Regions from separate parts of the Homo sapiens genome. Here regions 1, 3, 4 and 5 are each linked to region 2. Evidence: fine-mapped expression QTL. A gene starts in region 2. Each other region holds a variant in brackets. All regions are shown on one strand. Distances are from middle to middle.

Region 1 (5,107 bases), 58 kb before region 2:
TAGCATTTCCTCTGAGCCATCTCAGGCTCACCTGGGTTTAGACTATTCCGGCAAAGAATGGCTCCATAGCTGCTACGGCTTGCTTTATTCATTTTCCAGTTTTTAAAAGTAACTTGTTAGTAAAAGTTTTTGGTTGTGTGCAACAGAAAAAGATTCTGGCTAACTTAAGCAGAAAAGGATTTATTGACAGGTTAAGAGGGGCTCATGAACACAGTGGGAGGACAATGACCAGGCTTGGGAAAGGGCAAGGACCAAGGAAGTCCCAGAGGATGGGACACTGTCAGCAGAGTCACATTACCAACCCCACCCACTCCCCACCCACAGTGCTGCCAGGATGCTAACAATGCCCTCCAAAATATCCACCATTCTTGTAGCACAGCCTCTGGGATCAAAGCCTTGTGGCTTCCGTAAGTGAGAGGTGGATATGAGATGTGGAAGCCAAAAATCGCCTTTCTGGCAGAGGGGAATGGATTATTCCACATAAGAAAACCAGGATGTTAGAAGGAAGTGGGCTGATGCTGGACGTGCAAAACCTAATATACGTCTGCTATAAATAATATGTATAAAGCACAAAAGCACAAAATAATGCATGCTTATTGTGGAAAATACATAGTATAGCGCCTTCCTGTATTTTTTTCTAAAATTGGGATATTGTACATATTCTTTTTATTTTATTTATTTATTTATTTTTGAGACAGGGTCTTATTCTGTTGCCCGGGCTGGAGTGCAGTGGTGCTATCTCGGCTCACTGCAACCTCCACCTCCCAGGGTCAAGCGATTCTCCTACCTCAGCCTCCTGAGTAGCTGGGATTACAGGTGCCCACCACCACACCCAGCTAATTTTTCTATTTTTAGTAGAGATGGGGTTTCACCATGTTGGCCAGGCTGGTCTCGAACTCCTGACCTCAGGTGATCCACCCACCTTGGCCTCCCAAAGTGTTGGGATTACAGGCGTGAGCCACCGTGCCTGGCCATATTCTTTTTTTTAAATTTAATTTAAAGTTCTGGGATACATGTGCAGGACATGCAGGTTTGTTACATAGGTAAACATGTGCCATGGTGGTTTGCTGCACCCATCCACCCATCACCTAGGTATTAAGCCCCACGTGCATCATTAGCTATTTATCCTGATGCTCTCCCTCCTCACCCCGCCAACAGGCCCCAGTGTGTGTTGTTCCCCCTGTGTCCATGTGTTCTCATTGTTCAACTCCCACTTATAAGTGAGAACATGCGGTGTTTGGTTTTCTGTTGCTGTGTTAGTTTGCTGAGGATAATGGCTTCCAGTTTCATCCATGTCCCTGCAAAGGACATGATCTCGTTCATTTTTATGGCTGTATAGTATTCCACGGTGTATATGTACCACGTTTTCTTTATCCAGTCTATCATTGATGGGTATTTGGGTTGATCCTATGTCTTTGCTATTGTGAATAGTGCTGCAATGAACATATGTGTACATGTATCTTTATAATAGAATGATTTATATACCTTTAGGTATATGCCCAGTAATAGGATTGTTGGGTCAAATAGTATTTCTGGTTCTAGGTCTTTGAGGAATTGCCACAGTCTTCCAAAATGGTTGAACTAATTTACATTCCCACCAACAATGTAAAAGCATTCCTATTTCTCCACAGCCTCACCAGCATCTGTTGTTTCTTGACTCACATCTGACTGATGTGAGATGCTATCTTATTGTGGTTTTGATTTGCATTTCTCTAATGATCAGTGATATTGAGCTTTTTTTCATATGTTTGTTGGCCACATAAATGTCTTCTTTTGAGAAGTGTCTGTTCATGTCCTTTGACCACTTTTTAATGGGGTCGTTTGGTTTGGTTTTTACTTGTACATTTATTTAAGTTCCTTATAGATTCTGGATATTAGACCTTTGTCAGTTGGACAGATTGCAAAATTTTTCTCCCATTCCTTAGGATGTTTATTCACTCTGATGGTAGTTTCTTTTGCTGTGCAGAAGCCCGCTAGTTTAATTAGATCCCATTTGTCAATTTTTGCTTTTGTTTCAATTGCTTTTGATGTTTTTGTCATGAATCTTTGCCTGTGCCTATGTCCTGAATGGTATTGCCTAGATTTTATTTTAGGGTTTTTATAGTTTTGGGTTTTATATTTAAGTCTTTAATCCATCTTGAGTTCATTTGTGTATAAGGTGTAGGAAAGGGGTCCAGTGTCAATTTTCTGCATATGGCTAGCCAGTTTTCCCAGCATCATTTATTAAATAGGGAATCCTTTCCTCACTGCTTGTTTTTATCAGGTTGGTTGAAGATCAGATGGTTGCAGATTCTGTTCCATTGGTCTATGTGTCTGTTTTTGTA[C/T]CAGTACCATGCTGTTTTGGTTACAGTAGCCTTGTAGTATAGTTTGAAGTCAGGTAGCATGATGTCTCCACCTTTGTTCTTTTTGCTTAGGATTATCTTGGCTATACAGGCTCTTTTTTGGTTTCATATGAAATTTAAAGTCTTTTTTTCTAATTCTGTGAAGAATATTAATGGTAGTTTGATGGGAATAGCATTGAACCTATAGATTACTTTGGGCAGTATGGCCATTTTCACCATATTGATTCTTCTTATCCATGAGCATGGAATGTTTTTCCATTTGTTTGTTTCCTTGAGCAGTGGTTTGTAGTTCTCCTGGAAGAGGTCCTTCACTTCTCTTGTTTTGTACATATTCTTTGTAACCACCTTTTAAAATGTTATTTTATTTTTTTTGAGATGGAGTCTTGCTCTATTGCCCAGGCTGGAGTGTAGCCATGTGATCAAGGCTCACTGCATCCTCTACCTCCCCAGCTCAAGCAATCCTCTGCTTCAGAGTAGCTGGGACTACAGGCATGTGCCATCATGCCTGGCTAATTAAAAAAAAAATTATTTTTGGAGAGATAGGGGGTCTCCCTATGTTGCCCAGGCTGGTCTTAAAACTCATGGATTCGAGCAATCCTCCCACCTTGGCCTCCCAAAGTGCTGGGAATACAGGCATGAGCCACTGTGCCCAGGCTATAATCAATTTTTTTTCACCTAACAATATATTGTGATCATTTTCCATATCATTAACTATTCATCTGCAACATGATTTTTAGTGGTGGTATGGAATTTTTTCTCTGTATTTATTTTAAATCACTTAGGTACTTTCTATTTTACTTTTTATCACTGTAAATACTGCTGGGATGAACATATACTTTTTTTTTTCTTTTGCTTAAGTATATTGAAATCTTACCATGCATCAGGCACTACACTAAAGTGTTTTCTACATTATCTCATTTACTTCTCACAATAGCCCTGTAAGGTAAATGCTATTATCATGTCCATGTTACAGATGAGGAGCGTGCTGCATGGAGGCTGGGAACAATTCGCCTAAGATCATGCAGTGCTGATGCCCCTAATTCACCTGAGGGTCACACTGCAAGTAGATGGCAGAACCCGCTTTAGTGTGAACTCAGACTTGTCTAACTGGGGAGCTCGGCTCTGAGCATCTTAACTTCCTTCCCAAGTAGATATTATTGAGTAATCCATGAATATTTCCTTACAATAAGTCAGAAGTGGAATTGAGGGAGTAAAAGCATTTAATACATGCTGTCAACCTGCCCTCCAGAAAGTTTGCACCAATTTACACTGCCCCCAGAAATAGAGTAAAGTACCTATTTTTGCCTGGGCAAGGTGGCTCATGTCTATAATCCCAGCACTTTGGGAGGGTGAAGCTGGAGGATCGCTTGAGCCCAGGAAGTTTGAGATTAGCCTGGGCAATATGGCAAAAACCCGTTTCTACAAAAACTAAAAAATGAGCTGGGCATGCTGGTATGCACCTGTAGTCCCAGCTACTTGGGAGGAGGAGGTGGGGGGATTGCTTGAGCCTGGGACGTCAAGTCTACAGTGAGCCACGATCACGCCACTGCACTCAGCCTGGGTGACAAAGCAAGACCCTGTCTCAAACAAAAATTCAAAAAAAAAAAAAAAAGTGCCTATACTCTTGGCCCATACCTGCTAGGGATTATCTTCATCAGAATCTTTGCCAGTTTAGCTGGTGAAAAAAGCTATCATGGTTTTTAGTTTTCCCATATTTTGTATTATAGTATAATGCTGGCTACCTTTTATGATGGTTTACTGTGTGTTAGGAGAATGTAAACCCTGAGAGGTTTGAGACTGCTGTCTGTTTTGTTCACTGCAGTACCCCCGGCACCTGGCAGAGTATCTGGTACACAGTAGCCACTCAATAAAAATTTGATAAATAATTGAATAAGTGAGTGTGCTGGTCATTGAGGTCAGCACTTTACACAGATAATGTCATTAGTCTTCACAGCACTCCAAGGCCTTAGCTAGTATTCATACCATGTGCGCAGTCCCCTCTGACCCAATGGGCACCCTGAGGGCCTCAATTTGACCCTCAGGTTCAGCTGCTCCAAAGGAGGATTGCCCATCTCCCTTGATTTCCCTATAATCCCCCAAAATGAATTATTTTCAATTTTTAATTTTTTAAATTTTTTGTAGAGATGGAGTCTCACTATGTTGCCCAGGCTGGTCTGAAATTACTGATTCAAGCGATCCTTTCCCCTTGGCCTCCCAAAGTGCTGAGATTACAGCGATGCATCTGGCCAAAATGTACTCTTTGTACAACACATAATCTATATTTCAAGTCAGATCACCCCATTATATATCTACATTTGGTGAAAATATGCCCATCCATTTCCCTATAATGTAATGGCAGAAACACAATTGTTTTATAAGGCTTTTGATTTAATTATTCAAAAAAGCTTCAATTTAAAATTTAGCTTTGTGGGCCAGGCGCGGTGGCTCACACCTGTAATTTCAGCACTTTGAGAGGCAGAGGTGGGTGGATCACGAGGTCAGGAGATCGAGACCATTCTGGCTAACACGGTGAAACCCCATCTCTACTAAAAATACAAAAAATTAGCTGGGCGTGGTGGCACATGCCTGTAATCCCAGCTACTCGGGAGGCTGAGGCAGGAGAATCGCTTGAATCTGGTAGGCAGAGGTTACAGTAAGCCAAGATCGTGCCACTGCACTCCAGCCTGGGCAACAGAGCGAGACTCTGTCTCAAAAAAAAAATGTAGCTCTGTGACTCTGCCCAAGCCTTCAATGCTTTCACAGTG
Region 2 (5,107 bases):
TCAAGCAATCTGCCCGCCTCAGCCTCCCAAAGTGCTGGGATTATAGGCATGAGCCACTGCACCCAGCCTCCTTGATATGTTTATTTTACTCAGGTAAACTTTTATAAAACAGAAGAAGCCTGAATGTTTTAATAACAACAACAACAACAAAAAGATGCCAGAAAAATTTTAAACATTTTCACTATTTGAATAGATAAAACATTCTGAAATTTTGAATATCAAAAAGTTTAAATATGAATACAATGAAGTCTATTTCTTATGCTTTCCATCTACTGTGTTCTCATACCTCATGTTACTTTGTCCTAGTTTAATGCATATACAATTTAATACAATATTCTGTACCGTATTTCTGTGTTTTTCACTTAACAAAAAAATCTTGGAGATCTTAATGTTAAAACAAAGAACTTTCTGTTTTTTTGATTAACAGCTGCACAATGTTCAAACATATGGCTCTATCATAATTTAACTAGTATCCTGTTGATAGATACTTAGCTTGTTTCCAATCTTTTGCTATTCTCAACAATAAGAAACACCTTGTTATTTCTTATGTGTGGAAACATCTGTGGCATAAATCCCTGGAAATGAAATTCAAGGCTCCGAGTATATATGCATTTGTAATTTTAATACATACTGCCAAATTCCTGTTTCTTTATAGCCCAGCCAAAGTAGTGATGCCAGATATAATTTTGTTTTTTCATTTAAAAATATATAATGAAAAGTAGGTTACTTATTAAAGAACTAGGAAGAAAGTAGGACAAGTTTATGCAAAGTACAGACTACATTTTCACCTAAAAATACATTTAACAGGAATCTATTGTGCATCTACCGTATGCCAAGTGCTTTTAGGCACTTGGGATATACACACAAACAAATCAGACTCAAATCTCTGCCTGTGTGTGGAGCTTATATTTCAGTTCTACATTTTGGAACTCTCTGCTACTTCATAAGAAGCCAGTTAAATGTCAAAATCCTGAAAATGATCTGTTGAAATCCTGAGCACAGGCGCCAGACATATGCTACAAGTGTTATTTAAAAACTAACTAGAGGCAGTGTTACATATGATCATAGCTCTCCATCAGGTTCTTTTAAAACAACACACTAGCGAGAAAGCTCTTTTTATCCGCCTCCATCTGCTGTTGGTGGTGATCAGCATACTGTGGGCATTGTGGTATCATCCGAGATTAGGCTGTGAAATAGGAAGTGGGGTTACAGGCAGATCCGCAAGTGTATGCAAACTGTTGAGTTCTATCTCTTGCTAAAACCAAGGGTGCCCAATTCAGGTTTGGAGAGTAGGGAAAGTAAGGTTATCAGCGCATTCCTATCAGGGTCGTTTTCTTTTTTGCACTGCTCTTGTTCTGGTTTTATAAGGAGAACACAAGCAGAGTCTATGGAAAATAGTTGCCAAAGCATACAGGAAATACTCCTTATACTGAACAAATGCAAGAAAACAGAACGGGTTAGAAACCGAGGGAGACAAAAAGGCAGTGGGTGCCAAGGACTGTGAAAAGCAAATGCAACGATAGAGACAGCACAGTCTCAGGCTTATTTTTCAAAAATTCTCATTGTAAGCCTCTTTCCTTTCTAAATGGAGACTATCTTAACACTTTAGCTCGCATTAGACTTAATTTAATAAGAAGGTTGTAAACCACAGCTGTTAAAGTCTTGCCACTGCCCTACCGGATTCTTCGCATCCTGTAAGGCACAATTCGGAGTTCAGCTGGTTGATAAGGAAGCCAGGCATTGTGGCATCTTCAAGTACGAAGTGAAGCACAGGAAAGAGCCAACTCCGGAGAGTAGCTCTTCATTGCTTGAATCATACATATGCTTGTTTTTTCCCCCCTCTCCTTTCTGGTCTCTATTATTAACAAATATTTCATCCTGGCACAACAGGCACAATCAACAACTGGTTAAGGAATGAGTAGTTACTGAAGTCCCAACGCCTCTCAGTTATTTTTCTCACACTCACTGTATTCTAGACCTAGAAGCCAGCTCTCATTTGAAAGCTGAGGTTCAGAAGGGTGAAGTGCCAATAAATGGCAGAAGCCAGGTCTCTTTCCTGATTCCCATTCCAGCTGAGCTCCTCCTGCCACTGGATCACCATCAAAGACCTGCCAAAGCTGTTACTTCCGGGTTCGGTGCTGCCACAGTGCAAACGGGGATGACTTTGGACAATGACCCTGTGGCCCCCGCAGGGCTCGCACCCTCAGGCCCGTGGAAGGCTAAATGCTGACGGACTGGTTCTGCCCTGGAGCGGCTCTCCGCGTCCCAGGGGTCTCCTCAGTCCCGAGTGTGCACAGCGGGTCCTGCCACGTACCCTGGCGACCCCAGCAATGGACTCAGTGCCCCGGGTCCCTTTCCGTCTCCCTCAGGCGGCGTGCAGCACTTTTTCGGGTGTCCCAGTGGAATTTCCGGGCCCGTGAACGACTGACCCACGCCCGGCCGCAGCTCCAGGGGCCGACGAAGGGAGCGCTAGGGCCCACGGCAGGGCCGTCTTTGCCCGGGCTCCATTCCTGCCACCCTGGCGCTATGTCCGCCCTTCCCTGGTTTTCCCTACGAGCGTTTTTTTAACGCTTCCCACTCCTTGTTTACAAAGTGCTGAGCCCCCTTGACCGCAGGCTCCCGCGCCGGCCCGAGTTCCCACACCGTACGCTGGCTGCCCCCTATTCGGATCCCCGCCGGGCGCCGCACCCCCTAGCCACCCCAGACCGTCCCGGAGACCCGCGCCCGCCCAGCTCGCCCGGGCCATCACGTGAGCCTCCCGCCCCGCCCCCGCGCGTCACGTGAGCCCCGCCCCCGCGCCGGCGCGCTCCGACGTGCCCTGTAACTTACCCTCCCTCAGAGGCCAGCCTGCGGGGACGGGCCGGCCGCGGCCGTAGCCGTGTGAACGCTCTTCGGGCTCGCGTCGTCGACCCGCAGCCGCGGGGCGGACTAAGAAGGGAGCCGCCTGCTGCGAGGCCGCCGGGCTCCCGGTGAGGTGCAGGGCGCGGGTCCTGGCGGACGGAGGGCAGGTTGGCGAGGCGCTGCACAAAGGCGCGCCGGGGCCGGGCTGTGCCCGCCGAGGGCGGTGGAGTCGGGGGGAGGCGTGTGCGGGAGGCGCGGCGGCGGCGGCGGCGGCGCCGCGGAGGTGCGCGCAAAGGGAGGTCGGGCGCGCAGCGAGGGGCTCTGGGCGCGGGGGTTAGGCGCCGAGGGGGAGGGGGCCGGCGCAGCCTATTGGCTGACGTGGGCGAGAGGGTTTAAATGGCCCGAAGTTGTGGCTTCTCTGCCCCCTGGGTTTCCTGACTTCCTGTGTGAGGGCAGCGCCCGCCCGCCCCGCCCCCAGGGAGGAGAGTGTGAGGGTGCGCGGGTGTGTGTGTGAGTGCGGGAGAGTGCGCGCGTGTGTGCACAAGGCGGGTGTGTGCGTGTCTATGTGCAAAAGGCGGGTGTGTGCGCGCGCGTGTGTCTGCAAAAGGCGGGTGTGTGTGTGTGTGTGTGTGTGTGCGCAAAAGGCCGGCCCGGCCCCTCCCGCGCCCTGGGCCCACTCCCTAATCGCGGTGGGGCTTGCAGGCCTCCACCCACCCGGGGAGCCCACCCGGGGAATCCACCTGGGGCGTCCCTCGAGGACTGTTGACCTTAAACCGGACACTTTCTTCTTTGCGGTCTTTCCCGGTGCCCTGCCCCTGCTGGATGGACGTGCATTCGCTCCCCTCCAGCTTATCTGGGCGGAATCTCCTCAAAGTCCTTGAATTGAAAAATCCTCTTTACCAGCGTGCAGCCCGCCTCCCATCTCAGGGGAGCTGGTTGTCTTCTCAGAACGGCTGTCCTTTACGCGTTGCTATCTTAAGTGACTGCAGACCCTTTGAGAAGAAATGGCCACACGGTCTTCGTTAGAGAAAAAGGCACGCCCTTCAGCTTTCGAGGCGTGTGATGTTTTCCTTTTGACTGCAGCTGCAGTTTTGTAAATGTATTTTCAAAGGCTAAAGCACGACGTTGAAAGTACACCTTTATCGAAAGTTTTAATGTCATCCCAAGTGGAGTGTTTGTTGTGGATAGAGGCTTTTAGCACTCTAATAACACGATTGGTTGTGGCTGGCTTTTGGGTTAATCATGACATTGAGAAGTAGATTTTATCGACTATTTAGGCATGCGTTCCTAAAGGGAGGTGGTGGAGGAAGGAAGGCTCACTCGGGTTCTGATTCAGGTTCTGCCACCCGACTTCTAGAGGTTAGACCTTGGGAGACTCCGGGTGTTTCAATGGAAGTGTTAAAAATAAGTATCTAGCCCCTAGCCACGCCTCTTTCATACTTAAAAGTCGGGAACGATGGCCTAGATGTGTGTGTACTTGCCCATATCGCCTTTTCTTTATCTGTAGGAGGGTGTTTTACAGAATCGGTCATCTTCCTCTACCTCCTCTGGTCTGAATAGGCATTTTGGCTATTTTTATTTTGCCTTGGAAACGTTTCAGAGCTGGGTTTTGAGAGCCCAAAGCAGGCAGTGAAAGCGTGACCCCCACCCATGCCACCTGACGAGCCAGACCGTCTGCGCACATATGTGCGACCCCTGGTTGCATGCGGCTCCACTGTTCTAAAAGTGTTTCTCTGTGGGGGAAAAAGAAACCCCAGAAGTGTAATATAATGTGTGTATGTATATTTATGCGCCAATATTTGTTGATAGATTTCTGTTCGTACTTCATCAAGCTGGAGAAGACTGATGACTCATTGATTGTTAAGATAATGCCGTCTGTATAGTTAGTTATATATATATTAGTTGTTCATATATAATTATCAATACATTGCATCTCTTTCGGTTTTATATTTGCTAATACCAGTTGTTTCGAGGTGCAAATGAAAATAGATTAAGTGCTGTAGAAAAACAGCATGTTACTTGTAGTTAATCATTTGACTTTTCTTTAATTAGAAAGAATCTGCTCAGTGGTTTTTTAGTAGGCTGATAGAAAGTGAACTTTACAAATTTTTAAGTACTCTACGTAAGTGATATTACTGAAAATAATACGGGTGATTAAAATTTTTAAATGGAGTAAAAACTAAATAGTGGTGATCTGTTTAACCATTAAACAGTAGTACTAATATTTTACTTACCTGAGAAAATGGGCATCACAGTTTTACAATAA
Region 3 (5,107 bases), 140 kb before region 2:
ACCCTGTCCTTTTGGGCTTTTAGGGAACCTTCATTACGGACGCATGATTAATTAAATTACTTGCCATTGGTGATCAACTTGACCTTCAGCCTTTCTCCCCTCCTTGGAAGTTGAGGAATGAGGCTGCAAGTTCCAACCCCCTAGTTTTGTCTTTTTAGGGTCCTCTAGCCACCAGTCATTTTATCCAAATATGAAAGACACTTAAAGGCCAGGGGCAGTGGCTCACGCCTGTAATCTCAGCACTTTGGGAGGCTGAGGCAGGAGGATCGCTTGAGGCCAGGAGTTCCAGACCAGACTGCACAACATAGCAAGACCCCCGTCTCAAAAAACAACAACAACAACAAAATATATATATATATAAAATGACCTGGATGTGGTGGTGCACATGCCTGTAATCCCAGCTACTGGGGAGGCTGAGGCAGGAGAATCACTTGAACCCAGGAGGTGGAGGTTGCAGTGAGCCGCCACTGCCCTCCAGCCTGGGCAACAGAGTCAGACTCCATCTCAAAAAAACAAAACAAAACAAAACAAAAAAACTTACCATGACATTACAATAATTTTAAAAGTATAATGTTATTAGGGAAAAGTGTACTGATGTCTGTAATTTAATTAGAAATGCACCAAAAAGAAGGTGGATCAATGTATGGATAGAATGAGTGATAGCTGTCAGGATACATGATAAAGGGAAGATAATTTCCCACTAGTTTGCATTTATTTCTCTGGAAAATTAAATAATCACAATAATAAGAAGGCACAATAATAATATTTTGTAATGATATGTATCTCAGATATACCTGATATCTTTTTGTTTGGTTTGGTTTTTGTTCATTTTTGATACAGGCCTCTCTATGCTGCCCAGGTCGATTTTAAACTCCTGGGATCAAGGAATCTTCCTGCTTAGACTTCCCAAAGTGCTGGGATTACAGGCATGAGCCACCTTGCCCAGCCTACCTGATGTCCTTACCGTGTGAGATTTCATTTCCCTTTATGCTGAAGTATAAATCATCTGAACCTTCATCCTATATGACTGATAGAAGTCTAATATTTTTATTATTAATAATGATTAACTTTTATTGAGTACTTATTATGTGCCAGGTCCTTTGATTTTTTTTTTTTTTGAGATGGAGTCTTGCTTTTGTCACCTAGGCTGGGGTGCTACGGCACGATCTCGGCTCACTGCAACCTCTGCCTCCCGGGTTCAAGCGATTCTCCCGCCTCAGCCTCCCAAGTAGCTGGGATTACAGCCACCCACCACCATGCCTGCCGGGCTAATTTATGTATTTTTAGTAGAGATGGGGTTTCACCATGTTGGCCAGGCTGGTCTCTAACTCCTGATCTCGTGATCCACCCGCCTCAGCCTCCCAAAGTGCTGAGATTACAGGCGTGAGCCACCGCTCCTGGCTCCTTTGATCTTTAAACAAGAAAACACACAATACACATATACATCTATAAGAATAATCAATAATTTTCAAAGACAGCAAAGAGCAAAGCCATATTTAAGAAAGAAATATTATCCTAAAGAAATCAATTTACAGGAATATAGCTCCTGCAATGAAGACAAATGTTTGAAATACTATGCAGAACAGCATAACCCCTCATTTTGTTGGATCTTTTTATTACAAAATAGAATCTTTCTTACCAAAAAATCTACCATCCTGTTTTTCCAAAAACCAAGAAAGAAAGGAACAGCCTGCTCTCACAGAAAAATCTAAGTCTCCCTTTCTGGTAACATGAAGTGGAGTGTTTGAAATTGTTCAGTTTCTCACAATTGTAAGGATCCCAGGATCCAGATAATCAGGGTAGAGTTATCTGAGCTCCTTTCTTTCCCTTTGGCCTAGAATGGAGACCCCCAGGCTTGAGAGGAGTCTCTGCTGCATTTTCCCCTCACCATACAAGCAAGCCTTTGAGGTCCCAGTTTTGTGTTTTTTTTTCACTTTTCAACATCTTAATAGGAAATTAAGTATCAAATTTTCTGAGCTATATAATTGAAAAATTCATTTGGGATAACAGTAACACTATAAACTTACTGTGAAATTATAATTTTTAAAGTATAGTGTTATATTTAGGGAAAAGTGTATTGATGTCTGCAATTTAATTGGAAAGGCACCATAAAAAGGTGAATCAATGGATGTAAAGAGCAATAAATAGCTGGGTGAATACATGATAAAGAAAGGATAGTGAAGTGTTAATTGTAGAATCTAGGCAGCAGGTATACAGGTGATCACTATAAAATTCAACTTTGCTGTAAATTTTTAAATTTATATGGTGAAGGCATATATAAATAGATTAATAGAATCTTCGAAGCTTTCATCTCAGAAGTCCAGAAACACACCCATGAATATATGGAATCTTGTTGTATGACAGTAGAATCATAAAGTTTTGAGAAATAGTACTTGGATGGGAGAAATAATGAATGATTTAATAAATGGTGCTGAAGTCTGTTCATTTAAAAAAAATTAGATTTCTATCCCAATTAGCCTTACAGTCTAGTGTTTTCCATTGAACTCTAAGTTCCATGACAGCAGAGTCTAGATCTATTTTTCCTCCTATTATAATCCCAGGGCATGGTGTTTAGTAGGTGGTCAATAAATACTTGTCAAATGGTCAAATGAAGAATATATTAATGAAGACCTTAGTCCTGGAAGATATGCTGTGGGTTGTAGGATTCCTGTGATCTGTGCTGTTGCCAGGCATTGTAGGAAAGAGCCAAGCAGCTGAGTCTGGAATCTGTCCACTTCCCTGTTCCTCCTTAGCTGAGCTAAAGCAACTGTCACACTGACTGCTGGTTGCAAATAAGCAAACTTAATGATAAGTGCTATGAGGTTGTCCTAGACTTCATTCAGGGCTGACAGAGCTCCCTTGAAGACTTGCTTATAACTTTGGACTTGCAGGAACAAAGTCTGTAGCTGTTTGCGCTTTCTAAATCTGTAACAAATGGGATGGGTGAGCAGGATTTGGGGTGGGGGAGAAATAATGATGTAGAAATAAATGATTGATCCAAGTTCATTGTATATACATATAATATACATCACATATATATGCATTATAGATGTA[T/C]GTATAAATGTTACATATATTATATATATGTTTGCGTGAAAGAGCGTGTGTGCATAAAGAGATAGCAAAAATTTCTTCCATGAGTTTAGCCAGATCTCACGTACATTTTCCTTATAGCCCTGAAAAAGGAGAGCAAGTTATTTCACAGGGAATCAAATTCGGCAACCGATACTTTGAACTACTTTCACATATTGATTTGATGATTTTGTTGTCAGGACACACATTGTACTTTGATTCTGGTAAGTCATGTGCTTATTCTCAGCACACCACTCATAAAATGAAAAGGCTGCATTTAAATTATAGATACTGCACTTAGAGTTTCCATTTTGACTGCTAAAGTGTGTTTTGTTCCATTGTATGATAAACATTGGTATATACATTTTAGTATAGTTGAACATTTTTTTTTTGGTGGATCATGGGCACAATGCCTCCAAAGCCACAGGGGCTTCCTTTAATCGAGAGACTATTAAAACAAATGTTCTTCTTTTAACATACAGCCATTGAAAAGATGACACATTAAGAAACATGTAAACACTGCAGCTGGTTAATTACAAATTGCACTGCTTGATTTAGTACCTATGCGCTCCCAGGTTTGGGGACCTTAAGAGAGGGGGACAGGGGCCTCCCCTCACCTTTCACAGTTGGATAGAGAAGGCAAGAATGTGGGTACAGTAACAGAAAACAGAAGACCTGGCTTGTGCACAGTGCCTGAGAGAATCAAAGCAAATTCTATCTTCTAGTTCTCCCGGAAGAAAGATTTAAGATGTTAGGAAGGTTGGAAAATGAATGTGTGTTGTCATTTGGGAGACAAAGGAATTGACAAATGCTTCTAGTTAGAATACCAGCTAGGAAAAGGAGGCATACAGAGCTGACCTCATGCTCTGAAAAGGCAAGGAATCCAGAACCTGCCTCCCTAATCCACTTAAGCCCCAACCTTGATCATCAAGGGCAGTGCATAGGTGATCCTGTACGTCACACCTGAACACACGACCCAGCTTAGGGGAAACACCTTGCCTTCTTTGGTTCTGCTGCCCCCAGTCACCCTCCCAGGCCACCCCAAATGCCTCTCCCTCCAGTCTCAGCTCTGATCCGTGAGCCCTGCCAAAGGCCTGAGACTGCACTGATCTCAGAAAACAGGAGTCTTCCTTTCCCACACTAACTGAAAGGTGACACAGGAACCAACCCCTTAACTTTCCAAATTACTGAGAACTCAGACGACCAAATACCGTACCTGTTGGCCAGTGGAGCCTGCTTGGTCTTTCCATAAAGAGAAGGGAAACCAATAGAAGAGTAATGCCTGTCATTTCCAGGGGAGGCAAAAAAGGACAGTAAACTTTACTACTGTAGGCCCCAGCGCAGAGCCATAGAGGGAGATGTGCCTTCCTCTCCAGCATAAAAATAATATTCACAAGAGTTTTGTATATGTGGTTTTTAAACAAACAATAGCAATAGTCCTAAACTTGGGTCAGTCAGCTGGTGAAGGTGACTGGCAAGATTCTGGCAAGCAGAATGATTCGGAAGTTTCGCAGCAGAGTCTTCTGCCGAGGCTCAGGTCTCCCCTGTGTAACCCGCAGGGAGAGGGGTAAGGGGGCTTGGGCATTAGTACAAACAGCCTTGCAAGGTTTCAAAACTAAGCCCTAATTCCCAGAAATGAAATGGAGGTCGAGGAGAGATGAGGGTCCACTCTCAGGGAGGCGGAGGGATCAAGGCCACTTCCTGGGATTGCTTCTTAAGGGAAACAGGCCCTCTTGATAAGGGCTTGTTGGGGCACATGGAGCAATACCTAGAACAGCCCAGACCTTGGGGTTACCAGGTGGAGCCATGTGAAGGGAGGCAGTTGCTATGCACTGATCTTCCTTGGTGGGCCAGGCTGAGCCTCCTGGGTTAGTCGAACATTTTTTAAGTCTACGTAATCCTAAAAGTCAAAAGAATAAGCTGAATAAAAGTGTTGTACAGATCTTTAGTTTTCCTCCAGTATAAGAGAAAGTAAAGTGGATACTTCACAAATATTCTCTGTATCACTGTGTATTATAGAGACTGCGTATTACATAGA
Region 4 (5,107 bases), 46 kb after region 2:
ACTTTATTTTTACATTGAAAAAATAGTTTCCTGTTCCCAGGTTAAGAAGTCAAGGAAGTAGTTATACCTTTTAAAAACTACTAAAAATGATTACATTAAAATTTTGTTGCTCTTGTTTGATTGGTAAATTTTACTTGAAAGAATGACAAACTGATTATTCATACTAGGACATTAGACATTTTCTCAAAAATGAACAGAAGTAAGCCTATCACTTTAAAGAAAATTGTCAATTTTTGCTTGAGGGAATGGACACCCTGCTCTCCAGGATGTGCTTATTTTACATTGTACACCTGTATCAAAACATCTCATGTACTCTATAAATATACACACCTACCATGTACCCCCAAAATTAAAAAAAAATAAGAAAATAATTGATTTTTATTGCATATGATAAAATTCAAGCTTTTTAAAAATTTATGAAGAAATGACATGGTGAGTTTTTTGAGCTCAACTGGAGATTAGAATTTTGAAAACTTAGATTTGTTGTCATGAGCTTACAGCTTCTCAATCTCAAGACTCTTCATGAAAGCAGTGGTGATATTAAAGTTTTTGTTTTGTTGTTTGTTCTTAATGTTGTGTAATGAAATGTTTCAACATTTGGAAGATAAGCGTAACTCAGTGAATGAATGTTCCTCAAGTGACCAGTGTACAGTGGGTAAGAGAGCCATTCACAGTGCAAGGTAGACAAGTGGGTTTTAATGTGAGAAAGTACAAAGAGTTAATTGTTATGATTTTTAGATTCCACATTGCAACTCATCTTTAAGAAACTGCCACTTGTCAAGTTTTGGTGGAGTGTCTGAGAAGAATGTTCACAATAATATGAAAAGGCTGTAAAGTATTTCTTCCTTGTCCGACATATCTATAAGGCCATTGTTTATGTACTTCAACCAAAAAAAAATTGCAAAATATTGAATGTAGAAGCAGATGTGAGAATCCAGGCAATAAAGAGATTTGTAAAAATGTAAAACTGTGCCGTTTTTTTTTTTGGAGGGGAGATTAATCACTTTTTCATAAAAACATATGTTAATATGTAACAGGCTTATTTTTAAATGAACTAATACATAATTTAAGAATTTTTTAGTTTTGTTTTCTAATACTAAATATCAATAGATATGAACTCACACAGATGAATTCTTTGTGAAAATTTATGTCAGTTTGGAAAGAAGTGGTCTTTTAACCATACGTAGAATTAAATTCTTTTTTTTTTTTTTTTTTTAGGTGTAAACATATAATGCCATGTTATAAACTATGCTAATATTCACTTATTGGAACTTTTTTTGGCTTACAAAAAGTTTAGGCCAGGCGTAGTGGCTCATGCCTGTAGCCCCAGCACTTTGGGAAGCTGACGTGGGTGGATTACTTGAGCTCAGGAGTTCAACACCAACCTGGGCAACATGGCAAAACCCTTTCTCTATAAAAAATACAAAAAAAATTAGCTGGGCATTGGGGCTTGTGCCTGTAGTTCCATCTACCTGGGAAGCTGAGCTGGGAGGATCACTTGAGCCCAGGATGCAGAGGTTGCAGTGAGCTGAGATCACGCCACTGAACTCCAGCCTGGGTGACAGAGCAATACGTTGTCTCAAAAAAAAAAAAAAAAGTATTTTACATGAGGTCACATTCCTGAAAGGAAAGCACAGTATGAAAATACTCAGTTTCAAGTTGTGAAAACCTTGAATGTGCAAAAATGGGAATGACAAGAAGTGAGACTTATGTCTCCGGTAAGGATGGAAAGAGGAAGGAAAGATTTCCTGTAGTTTCTGGTCAGACTGTTTTAAATATTTTTGTGCTGAAGTTGGAAAATGGAAAGCTTAAAAATACCTCTACTATGTTAGTTCTTCAAGCATGTTATGCAGTGTGAGAGATAACCTAGTGAGAACTGTTTTCAATACTTTAAGATGAATTGACACCATTTCTCACCTTTTATCTATTTAGTTAGTTGAACTAAAATTTGAAGCAAATTTAGGCAAGGGGATAATTAATGTAAGTCTTAAAAGAGTAGGTATTTCTTTTTTTTTGAAATGGAGTTTTGCTCTTGTTGCCCAGGCTGGAGTGCAATGGCGCAATCTCAACTCACCACAACCTCCGCCTCCCAGGTTCAAGTGATTCTCCTGCCTCAGCCTCCGGAGTAGCTGGGATTACAGGCATGTGCCACCACGCCTGGCTAGTTTTGTATTTTTAGTAGAGATGGGGTTTCTCCATGTTGATCAGGCTGGTCTCAAACTCCCGACCTCAGATAATCCACCTGCCTCGGCCTCCCAAAGTGCTGGGATTACAGGTGTGAGCCACTGTGCCCGGCCCAAGAGTAGATATTTCTTAATGCAGAGAAACCTTAATCAGTTTTCTTGAGGGACAGAATTTTTTGCCCCATTGAATTTTCCTTAGTAAGAGGGATATCTAGTATCTGTTTTACATTTGCCACTTACTAGAAGCTTTCAGTGTGCTAGATAAAATGCAAAGTCTTGCCTAGTTTCTGTTTTTTTTTTTTTTTT[TC/C]TTTTTAAGAGACAGAGTCTTGCTCTGTTTCCCAGGCTGGAGTGCAGTGGTGTGATCTCAGCTCACTGCAGCTTCCACCTCCCAAGTTCACACAATTCTCCTGCCTCAGCCTCCCAAGTAGCTGGGATTACAGGCACGTGCCACCACGCCCACGTAGTTTTTGTATTTTTAGTAGGGACAGGGTTTCACCATGTTGGCTAGGCTGGTCTCAAACTCCTGACCTCATGATTTGCCTGCCTCAGCCTCCCAAAGTGCTGGGATTACAGGTGTGAGCCTCTGCACCCAGCCTAGTTTCTACTCTTAAAGAGCTCATAGTTTTGTGCATTTTGTTCCACTCTCCAGCATTAGCAAAGTAACATAAAAGTTTATTGGCCCTTTCTTTGAAAAATTTGACTTTTTCAGTCATGATTTTTTACTTAGTTCTCCTTATTATATTAGTGTGGAATGTCTCCAGGTCATCAACATTACTTTTGGGGACAAAAAGTAATTACACCATTAGATATCAGTTGCTAAACTCCACTAAAATGGAAATATTGGAAAATCCCAGGTAGCAATTTGGTTAGGTAGGCTCTGGCTACTAAAATATTTTAAACATAGATGTTTATTCTTAGTTTATTTTCATCTGATATAAAAACATCTAGCACTTTGGGAGGCCGAGGCGGGCGGATCACGAGGTCAGGAGATCGAGACCATCCCGGCTAAAACGGTGAAACCCCGTCTCTACTAAAAATACAAAAAATTAGCCGGGCGTAGTGGCGGGCGCCTGTAGTCCCAGCTACTTGGGAGGCTGAGGCAGGAGAATGGCGTGAACCCGGGAGGCGGAGCTTGCAGTGAGCCGAGATCCAGCCACTGCACTCCAGCCTGGGCGACAGAGCGAGACTCCGTCTCAAAAAAAAAAAAAAAAACATCTAAACAAAAATTTTGTTTTTCCTGTTTTTTTAAATTTGAAACACTTATTTCTCCTATTCTGTGAACACTTACAGTATTCTTAATATGCTAGTTATGAATATATTTTACACTGTGGTAACAAAAGTATTTTTTAAACACAGCTCTAAGAAATGATTACTAATACTTGTAGTATTTGGTAGGGACAATATGGATAGTGAGTAATAGTCTGGACTTTGGAATTAAATAGACCTTCCTGGTTTTGAATCTTAGTTAACAACTTCCTCATGGAGAGGAATAGTTAAACTCTAGGGTATTGAGATGATTGGCAAGATAAGTCAGTCAAGTGCTTAGAGTAAATGCTTAATAAATCTTAACAGTTTATTGTTTCTGTTGTTGCTAAAGGAAATTTCATTGCAATAAAATGTTCAAAACTTTGTGGACTTCTATTCGAGACCCCTCAAAAGATATTTTCAGACTTTTAAGGCAGTAAGCAAAAAGTCTTAAAATAAATGTATACTTTGCATATTGCTTTAGAATTGATATTTTATGTTTTTTTTGTGTGTGTTCCGTGTTGGCCTCTTATGTGTCTGTGGGCCCAGGACATTTATTCCTGTTTTTCAGCCTGTGAGTATAATGTTACTGCTTTAGGCAAGTTTTTGTTTTTTTTTAACATGATACTGCCCATTACATGTATATTATATTTGATGGTTAGTCCTTTGTCACTTTTAATATTCTGATGGAAAACTGATGTGGTAAGTTTTTTTTCTTTTTTTCTTTTTTTTTTAAGGAACTCATACAGCATGGGCATATCCTTGTTGTAGTCTCAGACACTCAGGAGGCTGAGGTAGGAGAATCACCTGAGCCTGAGGGGGATAGAGATGGAGGAGGGGAAGGTGGGGGGAATTGAGGTCACTGCAACTTGGTTCACTGCAGCCTTGCCCTCTTGAGCTCAAGTAATCCTTCCACCTCAGCCTCCTGAGTAGCTGGGACCACAGGTGTGTGCCACCACACCTGGCTAATTTTTTTTTTTTTTTTGGTAGAGTCAAAGCTTTGCCACGTTGCCCAGGCTGGCCTTGAACTCCCAGAGCTCAAGCTGTCTCAGCCTCCCAAAGTGCTGGGACTACAGGCATGAGCCACCACTCCCGGCCAGAACTTGTTTTAATATTTAAGAAGTATAATTTACTTAAGTGAATATATGAATATAAAATTTATAGAAATACAATTGTTGACCTGATTGAAGTATTAAAGGTGGAACTTATTAATAATTGCTGGGGATAGTTTGATACAGATAACTTATGTACATTTAGTTATATTACATGAAGTGATATTATTAGGCTGTGTTTCCTAGGTAAACATTTTTCTGAGACCATAACAAGACAGGGCATTCAAAAGTAGAATCTTATTCTTTTTGTTTCAGAAATGTTTGAACCCATTAAATTAAACAAAAGTGTTTTTTTTTGTTATTGTTGTTGTTTGTTTGTTTTTCTATAGAGATGGGGTTTCACTGTGTTGTCTAGCCTGGTCTCAAACTCCTGGGCTCAAGCAGTCCTCCTGTCCTGGCCTCCGAAAGTGTTGGGATTACAGGCATGAGACATTGCACCTGGGCAAAATGAAAGATTTTTGAATACCCAACTTGAACTAGGGACTTTAAGAGCACCATTACATTTTTTCATTCATGTTTTGTTAAACATTTTAATCATTTTTTTATTTGCAAAGGAAGAGAAACCAC
Region 5 (5,107 bases), 130 kb after region 2:
ATGACATCGTTCTGACTGCAGGGGTAACCTGAATTCAACCTGCTTGTTAGGGAACCAGATCTGATGTGACATTTCTGACATCTAGCTACATGTAATGACTGCTGTCTCTGGTCATGCCCTTGTCTCCTGACCTGTTAATATTAGCCAAATTGATTGCCTGAACATTGCCAGTAACAGTGACTGGACCTCCCTGTCGATCTTACCACTCTTGCCAATGCCTGTAGCATATTCAGTTGGCATTAGGTTCCATGAAAGCAGTATCACACAATGTGAGATTGCTGTTTTAAATAATGGGTAGTACTGAAATATCTCCCACTGAATAAGAGGTTGGGAAGAGAGCCCTTCTTTAAGAATCTACTGCAGAATGAGTTTCAGAGTACCAAAATGTCTTAGAGATAGCAACATGAGACTTGATGTTGCGCATTAAATATTTAATTGCTTACAGAAATAAGATGAAGTGAGGGCCAGCAAGGAGAAAATAGAGTCCTTAATGACTATAAACACTGACAAATGAAGACTTAGTACCATTTACAATGGAATAATGAGGAAAACATAGGCGAAAATTTAATGTTTTCAACAGTCATATTGGTGGTATTCTGCCTGGTGTGTATGTAGCATATGATTAAACAAATGAGTACATATTGGATATTTTAATTCTATCGTCTCGAGTCCTTGGCAATCAGGTTTCTAAGAATGGAACAAGGTGGTAAGTTAAAGTAAAAACTTTGTGGTCTTTAATTTGAATTGGGAGTATCAATATGATGTCATGAGATATTTAATCTATGTGTCTATGTGTTCATGTATGTAACTGATCACTGAAAAGGTGTAACAAGAATGACCAACTGGGGGAGCATCCTTAGCACCTGGGTTTTGACCTTGAAATAGAATTTCTCATTAAAAGAAACCAAGGCATTTTGGAGATATGGCTGATTCCAGGTGTGGAGCGGGAAACGTGGGAGATGATCCTGAAAGAATTGTCATAGCAAGGAAGTGATCAAATGTTAGCAGGATCTTGTCAAAAGAATTCTGGAGGCGACTTGAAGTTCCCACTGGCCAAAAATGGACAGTTGGAGCTTCAATAATAATAGTTGGCAATGAATTGAAACTCACTGATATGTTTACACCCATGAATTAATAATATCAAAAGAGGAGGATGAGAGGGAATAAATTCATATCTTCTTGAAAACTGATGATAAAGAGAAAGAATCAAACATTTATTTGGCCTATCCTGTATGCACTTGACCACTAAGTATCCATATGGCAGATGAGGGGAAGTACCTCTATATAAAAGTTTCCGGCCGGGCGTGGTGGCTCACGCCTGTAATCCCAGCACTTTGGGAGGCCCAGGCGGTCGGATCACGAGGTCAGGAGATTGAGACCATCCTGGCTAACACGGTGAAACCCTGTCTCTACTAAAAATACAAAAAATTAGCTGGGCCTGGTGGTGGGCGCCTGTAGTCCCAGCTACTCGGGAGACTGAGGCAGGAGAATGGCGTGAACCCGGGAGGCCGGAGCTTGCAGTGAGCCGAGATCGCGCCACTGCACTCCAGTCTGGGTGACAGAGCGAGACTCCGCCTCAAAATAAATAAATAAATAAAAAGTTTCCAACTAATAATTGAAATTATTATCATCCACTTTATACTCCCCATTGATTTAATAAATCTGTGTATTAAGCATCAATGGCTGCTAGCATCATCAAAAGAGAACTAGATATTACATGCTTCCTGATGGAAGAAAACAAGACCTCTTATGGTCTTGTCAAAGCAATTGAACCTTAAATCTGAATCAGGCTTTGAATGTAGCTTCCAGAAAATATAAAGGATGGAGAGCTACATCCTGCCTATGAAATCAAGAAGACTCAGACCGAGAAACAACTTGTCAAAGGGTCTGGCTTTCTCAACAAATAACACTGTAAGGAAAAGAAAGGATTGGAGAGGAGCTCCATAAACTTGCCTATTATTTTATTTCAGCTGAGACTTGGGCATCATTTAAAACCAATGAAATAGTCAAAACTTAATTCTTTATTATTTTATCATATTTTACTATTATCTCTGCTTTTAAGGTTATTTCACAGATATTAAGGTACCTGTGTGGTGGAAATACTATACAATGGTGTACTTTACACTTTTTCCCAGTTCTACGTTAGTGACATCAAGGTGGTTTGAAATTGGCAGTTTGGTAGTGGCAGTATTTAGACCAAATCAGGGATGGTTTACTGTTTGGTCAATTTGTCTAGACTTAAAAAGGTGATGGGGAAAATGTTAATGCAGATTAAAATTTAAAATGTGTCTGTAGCTGTTACATGGTGAACAACACAAGAAATTGAGGAAATATTCTTCCAGTGTTCAAAAACTATGATCTGATTCAGCAAAGAAGCCAGATATATCATGGACAAATCAGTGAAGTTCTGACATGTGTTGATTGTCTTTTGTCTTATTTGTTAATGTAAATAAAAATATCAACCAACATTCATGCCAGATTACACTTGTGAACCAATTGCAATCACAGGATGGCTAGAGATAGAAGAATTTGGGAAAAATAAAAAGATACTTTGTGAATAAATTGGTTATGTGGAATTAGCAATAAGGAGTATTATCTATTTTATTTATATTAGCTACATTTATTATACACTTATGTATGTGTGTGGATTTTGTGCCAGTTGTTAAACATTTACCAGCTCACCCCTGGAAACATGGCATGTAATAAATGTTAGTTGTTTTTATTAGTAGTATGGCAATAACACGATGCTGGTCCCTGCGAAGGGATAATGTTTCTAAAGACCAAATGTTTGGCAGGAAAGTAAACTGATCAAGATGACTTAAATTTTAAAGATGAGTTAAATTATATATGCCAAGAAAGGCCATCACTGAACTGAAAGAACTTATGTAACAGAAGCACTATGCAATACACAGAAGTCATCTTTACAATAAAGGCTGTTTGGGCCCAATATTTTACTTCCAG[G/T]TATCTATGAAAGGCAGAGCATTGAAAAAATAGAATGAACATCATGTCTTGTTAGAAATTAAATATCCCATAGATGCAGCAGAGGTTACAAAACGAACATGCAGAATTTATAACCATAAAATGGCCATCGATCCATTAGGTCCAAATGAAGTAGATTGAATAGGAAAGACAAGTTGTGTGATACCTAAATAAGACATTCATCTATAAAGAAATCCATAAATCTATGGATTAGGAGAATGATGAGCGTTTAAGTGTTGCTAAAAGGAAATATGTGACACTTAGGATAATTATATGATAACACTCACCTATTTGGAAAGATTTGGATGATGTTTGCTTAGTACGGATTATATTATAACAACAACATACACAGAAATGACCTGTAGGGTTAAGGGCCTTCAACCATCCTGACATCTGCTAAAAGTTGAGTCCTGGAATTGAGTCCCACCTTGTTTATGTTTTCAGAGGGGGAGTAGCTGTGTGCATTATTTTAATAAATAAAGAGCTAGTTGGTGGTCTGGGAATGACAGGATGCCTGGGAGACAGTGATTCCTGTATCTTACAGTTCATAATGGCAAGGAAATGAAATATGGGATTTAGTCAACCATGCATGGAGTCTGATTTCAGCAAACTCAGTGAAAATTCTTATGGCTCAAGAGGTTAAACTGAATTATTTGGAAAAAGTGAGATTTCAAGTACAGACGACCCTCCTTAGATTACACATTGGCAGTTTCAACCAACCAAGGATGGAAAATATTTTTTAAATAGCAAAAATAACCATACAACCATAAAAATGACACAAATAAGAATATGCTATAACAACTATATAACATTTACTTGTATTAAGTATTATAAGCAATCTAGAGATGATTTAACATATACAGATGTACAGAGGATGTGACTAGGTTATAGGCAGATACATTATTTTATATAAGGGACTTGGGCATCTGCAGATTGGGTCCTGGAACCAATCTCCAACAAATGTTGAGGGACAACTGTATACAAATAATGAAAGGCCAAGTGGGAAGAGACAGAAACTGAAATAACTGGTATGCTTGCATAGGAAGACCTCTGGTGAACACAGATTCCAAGGGATGAACTAAAGTTGACTGTGTGGAGCACATAAACTGATCATAAAAGAGTAAAAGTTTATAAAAATATTAGGAAGGTTAAAATTCCTAGTGAACTTTCAGAAAATGCTAGTCAACAAAGAATGCCATTAAATTATATTCAGATCCAGAAGTATGAGAAATGCTACATCTCCAATGAGCAGAATTTTATTTTATTTTATTTTATATTTTATTTTATTTTATTTTTTAAGACAGAGTCTCACTCTGTTGCCCAGGCTGGAGTGCAGTGGCATGATATCTGCTCACTGCAACCTCTGCCTCCGGGGTTCAAGTGATTCTCCTGCCTCAGCCTCCCAAGTAGCTGGGATTATAGGAGCCAGCCATCACACCCGGCTAATTTTTCTATTTTTAGTAGAGACAACGTTTCACCATGTTGCCCAGTCTGGTCTCGAACTCCTGGCCTCAAATTTTCCACCCACCTCATCCTCCCAAAGTGCTGGGATTACAGGCGTGAGCCACTGTCCCCAGCCAGAATTATCTTAAAACAGGGAAGGATAAAATAAATAATGTAGAGATGGGATAAAAAAGCAAAGAACAGCTATGGAAAGAAATGAAAAGTTTTCAATGCATCTGTCTCCAGGGCGAGGCCAACTACATTTTAGTATGTTTCTGCTTCTTGAAGAAATTGCAGATGGAATCCCAGAGCATGTGTCAATGATGTTTGGTAAATAATAGAGGAAATATTCAGAAGCATCAAGGTGAATACTTTTTTTCCAGTATAGAAAAAAGGTTTGCTCAATGGAAAGTATGCTACATATCCAATCTTAGATTCAGCAAAGCCTGTGGCAAAATTGCACATAATATCTTACGGATAAGGAGATAAAAACTTCAGCTTCTGGTACTTTTAAAGAAATACACAGCTGTCAAATAACTGTTGAGAGTGTTGATAAGTGGCTTGGTGGTATACTATGAGAATAATTGAGTGGTCCAAGACTTTGTCTTAATACCATGGTATTAAAACTTTATTAATGACTTAAAGCATAAAAATCTGCAGATGACAGAACTGGGACGATTAAGCA

Alleles and levels. Positions count from the first base shown, and alleles are read on the strand shown. Sizes are in standard deviations (SD) of each study's normalised expression. Not every link is listed here.
In carriers of allele C in region 4, the expression in fibroblasts of the gene that starts at base 2,821 in region 2 tends to be lower than with TC alone (moderate effect, 0.50 SD a copy in GENCORD).

The links. PIP is the estimated chance that this variant, and not a neighbour inherited with it, causes the effect.
Region 1: its variant is the best candidate, but not a certain one, in a credible set for the expression of ARHGAP12 in whole blood (INTERVAL, PIP 0.64).
Region 3: its variant is the best candidate, but not a certain one, in a credible set for the expression of ARHGAP12 in whole blood (TOPMed, PIP 0.84).
Region 4: its variant is the best candidate, but not a certain one, in a credible set for the expression of ARHGAP12 in fibroblasts (GENCORD, PIP 0.57).
Region 5: its variant is the best candidate, but not a certain one, in a credible set for the expression of ARHGAP12 in lung (TOPMed, PIP 0.62).

The regions. Positions count from the first base shown.
Region 1 is chr10:31,984,519-31,989,625 of GRCh38, reverse strand. All of the region lies in intron 2 of LOC107984219 (a long non-coding RNA gene), which reads right to left. All of the region lies in intron 2 of LOC105376485 (a long non-coding RNA gene), which reads left to right. It also overlaps the pseudogene RPL34P19. Among named protein-coding and RNA genes, the nearest start is that of ARHGAP12, 58 kb to the right of the region's middle. The variant C/T (reference allele first, on the strand shown) is at 2,325.
Region 2 is chr10:31,926,545-31,931,651 of GRCh38, reverse strand. It overlaps ARHGAP12 (Rho GTPase activating protein 12), which reads left to right and starts at 2,821. Exons shown (of 20, transcript NM_018287.7): 1 at 2,821-2,969. It overlaps LOC107984219 (a long non-coding RNA gene), which reads right to left. Exons shown (of 3, transcript XR_001747415.2): 1 at 3,609-5,107; 2 at 2,830-2,990. RefSeq lists a silencer at 2,650-3,149.
Region 3 is chr10:32,071,497-32,076,603 of GRCh38, reverse strand. No RefSeq gene overlaps it. Among named protein-coding and RNA genes, the nearest start is that of KIF5B, 18 kb to the right of the region's middle. The variant T/C (reference allele first, on the strand shown) is at 3,055.
Region 4 is chr10:31,880,204-31,885,310 of GRCh38, reverse strand. All of the region lies in intron 3 of ARHGAP12 (Rho GTPase activating protein 12), which reads left to right. Among named protein-coding and RNA genes, the nearest start is that of ARHGAP12, 46 kb to the left of the region's middle. The variant TC/C (reference allele first, on the strand shown) is at 2,490.
Region 5 is chr10:31,794,420-31,799,526 of GRCh38, reverse strand. No RefSeq gene overlaps it. Among named protein-coding and RNA genes, the nearest start is that of MACORIS, 90 kb to the right of the region's middle. The variant G/T (reference allele first, on the strand shown) is at 2,962.